Linked DNA regions of Homo sapiens. The protein of the gene in region 2 interacts with the protein of the main gene of each other region in a pairwise test. Each region holds a gene or a part of one and is shown on either strand. Other genes may lie near its edges.

Region 1 (3,816 bases), on a different chromosome or scaffold from region 2:
TCCAGTATCTCACTTTTAAAAATGAGAATTTTACAGTAGGATTAAAGCTTTCAGAAAAATACAGGTCAACTAAAATTTACCAAAAAACAGGTAAGTAAATCAGGAATTATTGCTTAGTGGATAGACACAGGACTTCTTCATCAAAAGTCCTAAGTCCAGATGGACAGAATATTCCCAAAGATGGGAAGGCTCCTTTAAAAGCCTTTGAAAGAAGGGGGCATAATATTAGTATTTCCCACTGGGGAATACCCCAGGGATATTTTCTCATGTGTAAAACATCAGAACTTGTGTATAAGTGATATTTATTGTTAATTTCCTTAAATGATCTCTCTTCTTCCTCACCTAACCAGTTGTCAATATTTGGGTTTCTGGGATGAAACTCTCTTTGAGCCCCATTTTCGTGGAAGAGAACTTCAAGCCTCAATAGGCCCAACTGCTTCCCCGATTGAAGACATCCCTCTCCTCATTGCACTGTCCCCTCTGCCCCTTCCCTATGCCCCTCAGCCTGCCAGGTCTAACTTATCATGAATTTTAAGTAAGTAAAGGAGAAAGTAAGTCAGATTTAACAATGTGATTAATTTGTCAGTTGAAAAAGATAGCATCTATTATTTTACAAATAATGTTCAAGAAGCTTGGCTTAAAACTAGAAAGAAGGGCCAGGTGTGGTGGTGCATGTCTGTAATCCCCGCACTTTGGAAGGCTGAGGTGGGAGGACTGTTTGAGGCCAGGAGTTCGAGACCAGCCTGGGCAACATGGTGAGACCTCCCAACTCTACAAAAAATCTTTTTGAAAAAATTAGCCAGGCATGGTGGTACGTGTCTGCAGTCCCAGCTACTGGGGAGGCCGAGGCAGGAGGATCACTTGTGTCCAGGAGTTCGAGGCTGCAGTGAAGCTGTGACAGCACCATTGCACTCTAGTCTGGGCAACAGAGGAAGACCATTCCTCTAAAAAAAAAAAAAAAGAAAGAAGGGGCCAGGCACGGTGGCTCACGCCTGTAATCCCAGCACTTTGGGAGGCCGAGGCAGGCGGATCAGGAGGTCAGGAGATCGAGATCATCCTAGCTAACACGGTGAAGCCCCAACTCTACTAAAAATACAAAAAATTAGCTGGGTGTGGTGGTGTGCGTCTGTAGTCCCAGCCACTTGGGAGGCTGAGGCAGGAGAATCGCTTGAACCCGGGAGGCAGAGGTTGCAGTAAGCCAAGATCATCCCATTGCACTCCAGCCTGGGTGACAAAGCAAGACTTAGTCTCAAAAAGAAAAAAAAAAAAAAAAGGAAAGAAGGAAAAGAAAGAAAGAAGACTTTTCATTGTGGTTTAGTATAGTCTTAGGCAGTTTGAAATGTATCTAGAAAAATAAGAGTGGTCAGTGAAGCCTGCAGACTTCCGTGTGGTGGGAGGTGCTGAGGAAGGGTGGAGGTTGGCAGAACTGTGGGAACAGGCGATGGAAATGGTTCTCCTAATATGGAGTTGACAAGATTTTTCTTCACCCAGTTTTCCTATCAACTATTCCATCATGTTTTTTTCCTACTGAATACTTTCTCCTTTTTTTGTACAAATTTATGTGGTGCATGAGAAATTTTGTTACACATATAAAATGCATAGTGATCAAGCCTCTATTTAGAATGTCCATCACCTCAGTACAATACGTTTTTATTTAGTCACCCTACTCTGCTATCAAACTCTGAATTTATTCCCACTATTGCATCTTTTGCTGCTTAATTCATCTGTGGTTAAGGGTTAACAAGGAAAACACATCCCCAAGGTAATTTACTTCCAGTTCTCTGTATCTGTCTAATTTAAATATATTCCTCTGCACCCTACGTCATTCTTTTGAAAGAAATTAGGCTACTGTGTTATTTGATGCTGAAATGCAATCTTTCAAGCTATTACCTGACATACAATTTCTAAATGCAGTTCAGAAAAGTCATCCATTTTACAATCTGTAAAAGAAACAAAACTTGGATTCTAAGTCCAAAGATATATGCCCTCTATGTAAATTTATCTTCACTCCCTCTACACATATTTTACACAAAGTCACAAGTGGTTTGTGCATTCAGTATGAACCCTGTGTATCTAAAAGGGGAAGAGCCAAGATTTCAGCTCCTGTCATTAGATAGTCCAAGAATTTAATATTATAAAAGATATTGGGACAGTGGAAACAAATAAATAAAACAGAAGTCTGTTTCTGTTTGTTTTCTCATCTGAGTCTGGAACCAGCCCTGTCCAAACCAGGCTCATTACCAAACCAGGCTCATGAGCAAAGGCAGTTCACTCTCAAACACCTCAGCTTCCTAGAATTACTCCAGGACAACAGCACAGTCCTGTTAGAAGCTGAATGTATGATTTCATCTCTTTGCCCATCACCGAGATTGTTTTCTAAAAGCAAGCTGTAAGCTCCTCCCCGAGAGAATTACTTTTCGCTCACCGAATCTCATTACCTTTCTTTAATAGACATGGTTTTGCTGGGTGAGTCAAGAAGGCCCTCCCCTGTCGGCGTTTTGATCTCTCCAGCAGCAAACATCGCACATGGATTCTTGCAGAGCTTCTCCTGTGGCTGTTCCGAAGAATCCTGGGGCTTCCAGGACACGGGGGCTGTGGTTTGAGCAATAGTTTTCCCAGCAGCTGTCCCCGTCTGCTCGGAAGTGGGCTCCCCGAACTCTGCCGCTGGGAAGGAAAAGAGCAACATCAGCACTGAACTCCTCAGGCAAACATTCTTCCAGCGATTCGCCCTCAACAGTGCAGCTCTCAGGGTTCAATCCGTGGGCACACGGCGGGTGACCCAATCCACTGGGATTTATGCAAATCTGCAGCACGCTACACTCTGTGAGAAAACCAAACTTCCTGGAGGGTTACCCACACAGCAAAATGCTTCGTGGCAATTGGTTTCTCTCCTGTGTGCGAGACACAGGAAGTCAGCTTTAACTATTTACTCCAGAATGGTTCTATTCTCCAAAATAATACCTTAACATTCAAATGTGCTATACTCACAAACGCAAACCCCTATTATAACTTACACTGTACTGTTTCATACAAACGTAGAAAGAGGATGAAGGGCCCACGCAGTGTAGCTTGCTAGCCTGCAAAACAGGCATGCAGGAAGAAGCACTCTAGCGATTCAGAGACTGGGGTCAAGTCTTTCCTGAATTCCTTGTGCTTACCCAGCCTGGACCTTTGGGGTCATCAATTTCTAAAAGGGGCCACCAGAACTAAGCAGCTCAGAAGGCCATTGTGTGAGTGACCAAAGTCAACAGAAACTCCATGAAGATGTGTGAAAGCTCTTCCAGTAGTTTTATTGCTGAAAACTTGATGTATCCTCTAGTCAGATCCAGGGAAGAATAGGATTCCCGCTGAACTTTTAACCAATACTAGCTGTAAACTGCCTATAGAACTTTGTTAAAAGCCATCATAGACACAGGACAAATCAAGCAGAAACTAAAACCCAGTGGCTTTCTAAAGCTTTAGGGGCACTGGTCACTTACCTCTTAGTGAAAACTTCCTTTTCATAACATTCTCCACCTCCACCTTCTCTTCAAAGGGCAGCCTGTCCCTCAAGTCCAAGTTTCCTTGTGCATTCATTTTAGCCATGGAAAATTCCTTCGGTTCATCCCCGAGGTGGGTGATGGGAGGGTTCGCCCGTTCCAGGCTTCCTCTTCTGGGAACAGCATATTTAGATTCCTTATGGCTGTCTCCTTCCCTGGCTCGGTTCAGGATGGGGTAGGATGCTTCTGCTTCCTCAAAGGACCCATACTTCTCCATCCCACTGTCTCGACCTGTCAAAGCTCTCTTGCTTTCTGTCTCTCCATATTCTCTCAACAT
Region 2 (3,816 bases):
TCTCCTTTGCTTTGCTCTCATGGATCTGAAAGATCTGATCCAGATCACTCCTTGAACCAGAAGCAAAAATGCTCATCCTTGAAACAGCTGTCCCAAAGTGAGAAGTTTTGCTGAAGGCTAAAGGGGTTGGAAAATGGAAAGGATCCCCAGGAGGAGGCCTCCTTAGGTCCCCAAGGCAGCAGCACTGAGGAGAGATTAATCTTAGACTTTAGTGATTCAATGGAGTAGAATTTGGGGGGAATTTATTTATTTACTTATTTATTTATTGAGATGCAGTCTTGCTCTGTCACCTAGGCTGGAGTGCAGTGGCATGATCTTGGCTCACTGCAACTTTCACCTCCCAGATTCAAGCAATTCTTCCTGCCTCAGCCTCCTGAGTAGCTGGGATTACAGGTGCCCACTACCATGCCTGGCTAATTTTTGTATTTTTAGTAGAGATGGGGTTTCACCATGTTGGCCAGGCTGGTCTTGAACTCCTGACCTCAGGTGATCCACCCGTCTTGGCCTCCCAAAGTGCTGGGATTACAGGCGTGAGCCACCGTGCCTAGCCAGGGTTGAATTCACTTATTTACTTTGAGACGGAGTCTTGCTGTGTCGCCCAGGCTGGAGTGCAATGGCCACAATCTCAGCTCACTGCAACCTCTGCTTCCTGGGTTCAAGGGATTCTCCTGCCTCAGCCTCCCAAGTAGCTGGGATTACAGGCACATGCCACCACATCCGGCTACTTTTTGTATTTTTTAGTAGAGATGAGGTTTCACCATGTTGGCCAGGCTGGTCTCGAACTCCTGACCTCAGGTGATCCACCCAACCTCAGTCTCCCAAAGTGCTGGGGTTACAGGAGTGAGCCACCGCATCCGGCCTAGGGTGAATTTAATGGGAGAGGAACAAGATCACAGCTCTCTGCTCAAGGATCTGACGGGCATTGCAGCTCTGCTGCTAAGCCATACATCAGGAAGGGGATACACCCAAGGCCCCACTGCTCACCTGAGTTTCTGGGAGGCAGAGGCTGGAGCTGCCATGGGCTCAGGGCTCCCGATCTCCTCTTCCTCAGGGCCTCGGGCTCTCTTTGCCTCTGGTGGACCAAGCAATTCTTTCTGAGACAGCTTAACAGGTCCCAAGGCTAGATGATTGGAGGATGGGGTGGAGAGAGGGATTGGGGGTGGTCAGCCTCTGTGCTGATGCTTGGTGGTTTCAACAAACTCCCTAATTTCCAGACCCAGCGTTTCCACTCCTGCCTCCCCCAGTTCTCACCATGAGGCTGCAGGCTCTCATTGGTAAAAGGCCGATTGATCACCTCCTTGGACCTGGCAGCAAAGTTGAGTGCGGAGACTGTGTCTAGGTAGAAGCGTCTCTCAGGGGCAATGTTGGCAATAAGGATACTGTGGGCTGAGCCACCCAGAGAGTCCTGAGGGTGAGACCAGGCAGTGGGTGGGTCAGAAGCCCAGCCTTCCTATGCCTCAACTGCTATTCCCCACCCCACAGCAGGCCTGAGAACCTCCTTCTGCAGCCCCTTCTTCCCTGAGACAGGTGGGCCTGACCTGCAATAGGCGAGTGAGCTTGCTGTCCCGATAAGGTACACGAGGGAGGCCCTGATTCAGCGCATCTACCACTTTGCCCAGGACAAACAGGGAGGTGTTGATGGCTCCACTCTCTTTTAGCCGAAGGCCCTTGTTGCCTGTGCGCCGGTTGTCCTCTGACCCAGCCAAGTCAATCAGGTAGAGTTTTCCCTCTCGCTGGCGAAATGGGGCCAAACGTTCCCGCTGGTCCACCTGGGGGTAAGAACAAAGGTCTCGTGCTTAGCTCAGGCTCCTGGGCTTCCCAGGTCCTCGCCCCTGTCTGCGGCCTCACCTTGACCAGGAGCACAGCATGACTGCGGGAGGAGCGCTGGTTGAGCCGGGTGGCTCCTACAGTCCGATTTCGACTGGCTGGCAGGAAGTGCCGCTCAAAATCAGCAAAGCTACTGATGGGCTTCTGGGAGAGACCCGGAATCAGGATATTCCCCCGGCAGTCTTCTCGGATTACCAGGTCTCCCGAAGCAGGGTCCAGGAGGTCTAATACCTGTGTAAGCAGTGAAGGGGAAGGGCAATTCTCCATAGAGAGGCTGTTTCTTCCTGGGGATCAGTTTCCTTTCTCTGTTCTATTCTCGGAGTTGTACCATCTGCTACCCCAGTCTCTGTCTTTCTAGGTCTCACCTTACCTCCCTGCTACAGCAGAGCTTCATGTTCTAGAACCAGGTCTTACTTTGACCCTTTGTTGCTCCTCTCCCAACCAGCACGGGGCCTCACCTTCTCCTGGTAGATCTCTAGGTAAGACATGGTGACAGAAAGGGCCCATGGCCGGCCCTCGGCACCCTCCTCCCTTGTGAGCTGCAGGAGGTCCATGAGAGCCCGCGGGATCACCCCAGGTTGCTCTGGGCTGCCCAGCATTGTGTGCGTCTTCCCTGGGAAGAGAGTGGAGAAAACTGTGAGGTTTTCCTCTCCGTTTCCCCAGCCCTTTCTGACCCATAGCTGTTTCTTTTCTGGCTCCCTCACCAGCTCCTGTGGGTCCATAGGCAAGCACACTGGCATTCTGCCCTTCCAGCAAGTGCCTTAGGATGGGCTGCACTGAACCTGCATAGATGTCCTGCTGAGTACTCCTCTCCCCATAGAAGGCATCAAACCTGCAGGAAGAAAGAAAGAAATTAGCGTGTGTGTGTGTGTGTGTGTGTGTGTGTGTGTGTAAGGGGTGGAGTGGGGTGGGGGTGGGTAAGGGATTCTACTCTCATCTGGACCTTGGATTTAAGAGAACGTCTCTATCCCCTTTCTTGTACAAAGACCTTAAAAAGCATCCACCTAACACCTACTCCATCCTCATCTCTCTATTGGTGTTAGGAATACAGAGATAGATCTGATATCCCTGCTCTTGGAGTTTTTCAGTCTGGTAGGATAGATATCCACACTTTGCTGTGATTTAGGAAACGAAGATAAGAACACACTCTCAAAGGAGTAACTGATTCTGCTCAAGGAAGGAAGATTTTGACCAAAGAAAGAAATTCTGAGAATCAAGAATAGCAAAAAAGCAAGGCTTCCCAGTCTTTTTCAAATGGCTACATGTGTAGAACATTGTATTTTACACCATAATGGGGAAAATAGAGGATGCTGCTTATGACTGAACTAGACTCTACATACCAATCACCTATCCACTGCGTTCTGGTGGAGAAGTGCAGCTTAGGCCACAGCAGGGAGTTTAATATATATTGAGGGAATGAGGCTGGAAAGAAACTGAAGCCCAAATTGTTAACGGCCTAGTATGGGAGCTAGCAAACTTCTGTAAAAAGGCAGATTGTACATATTTTAGGCTTTGTGGGCCATGTGTTCCTTTTACAACTACTCAACTCTGCCACTGTAGTCAGAAAGCAGCTATAGACAATATGTAAATAAACGATAAAATTTTATTTACTGAAAATCTTACTCCTGATCAGATTTGACCTGCAGGCCATGGTTTGCCAGCCCCCGCCTAGAAAAACAGGCCAAGGAGTTTGAACTTTAAATCCCCAGTAGGATTATAAAGTAGCTGCCCTTCTGAGTTCTGTCCCCAAATCTGGGTGGTCTTCTCTGACACTACCCAGCTGCAGCTTGGGTAGGCTGGCTGGCAGGTCTGTGTTCCGCCAACCCTCCTGATATGTCCCCCAGCCTCTACTTGGGGCTCACCTGCTCACCCTCATTGCTCCTCCCTCTCTGTGCACAGTAATGTATGTTTGATTCAACCTCTCATCTCTCCCTACAGTATCCCAGAGAGGGCCCATCATGGGGGCACCTGTCAACATTTCCTAAGTGA

The links.
Region 1: the proteins of KIF22 (region 2) and SVIL interact in a two-hybrid assay, tested with the Homo sapiens proteins (one study listed by BioGRID).

The regions. Positions count from the first base shown.
Region 1 is NC_000010.11:29,519,972-29,523,787, forward strand, and holds part of SVIL (supervillin), read right to left. Parts: coding exon 3,480-3,816; intron 2,665-3,479; coding exon 2,439-2,664; intron 1-2,438.
Region 2 is NC_000016.10:29,797,217-29,801,032, reverse strand, and holds part of KIF22 (kinesin-like protein KIF22), read right to left. Parts: intron 2,660-3,816; coding exon 2,532-2,659; intron 2,441-2,531; coding exon 2,286-2,440; intron 2,059-2,285; coding exon 1,849-2,058; intron 1,770-1,848; coding exon 1,539-1,769; intron 1,406-1,538; coding exon 1,252-1,405; intron 1,121-1,251; coding exon 985-1,120; intron 860-984; coding exon of another isoform or gene 811-859; exon of another isoform or gene 231-810; intron 1-230. UniProt on the Homo sapiens protein: Kinesin family member that is involved in spindle formation and the movements of chromosomes during mitosis and meiosis. Binds to microtubules and to DNA. Plays a role in congression of laterally attached chromosomes in NDC80-depleted cells.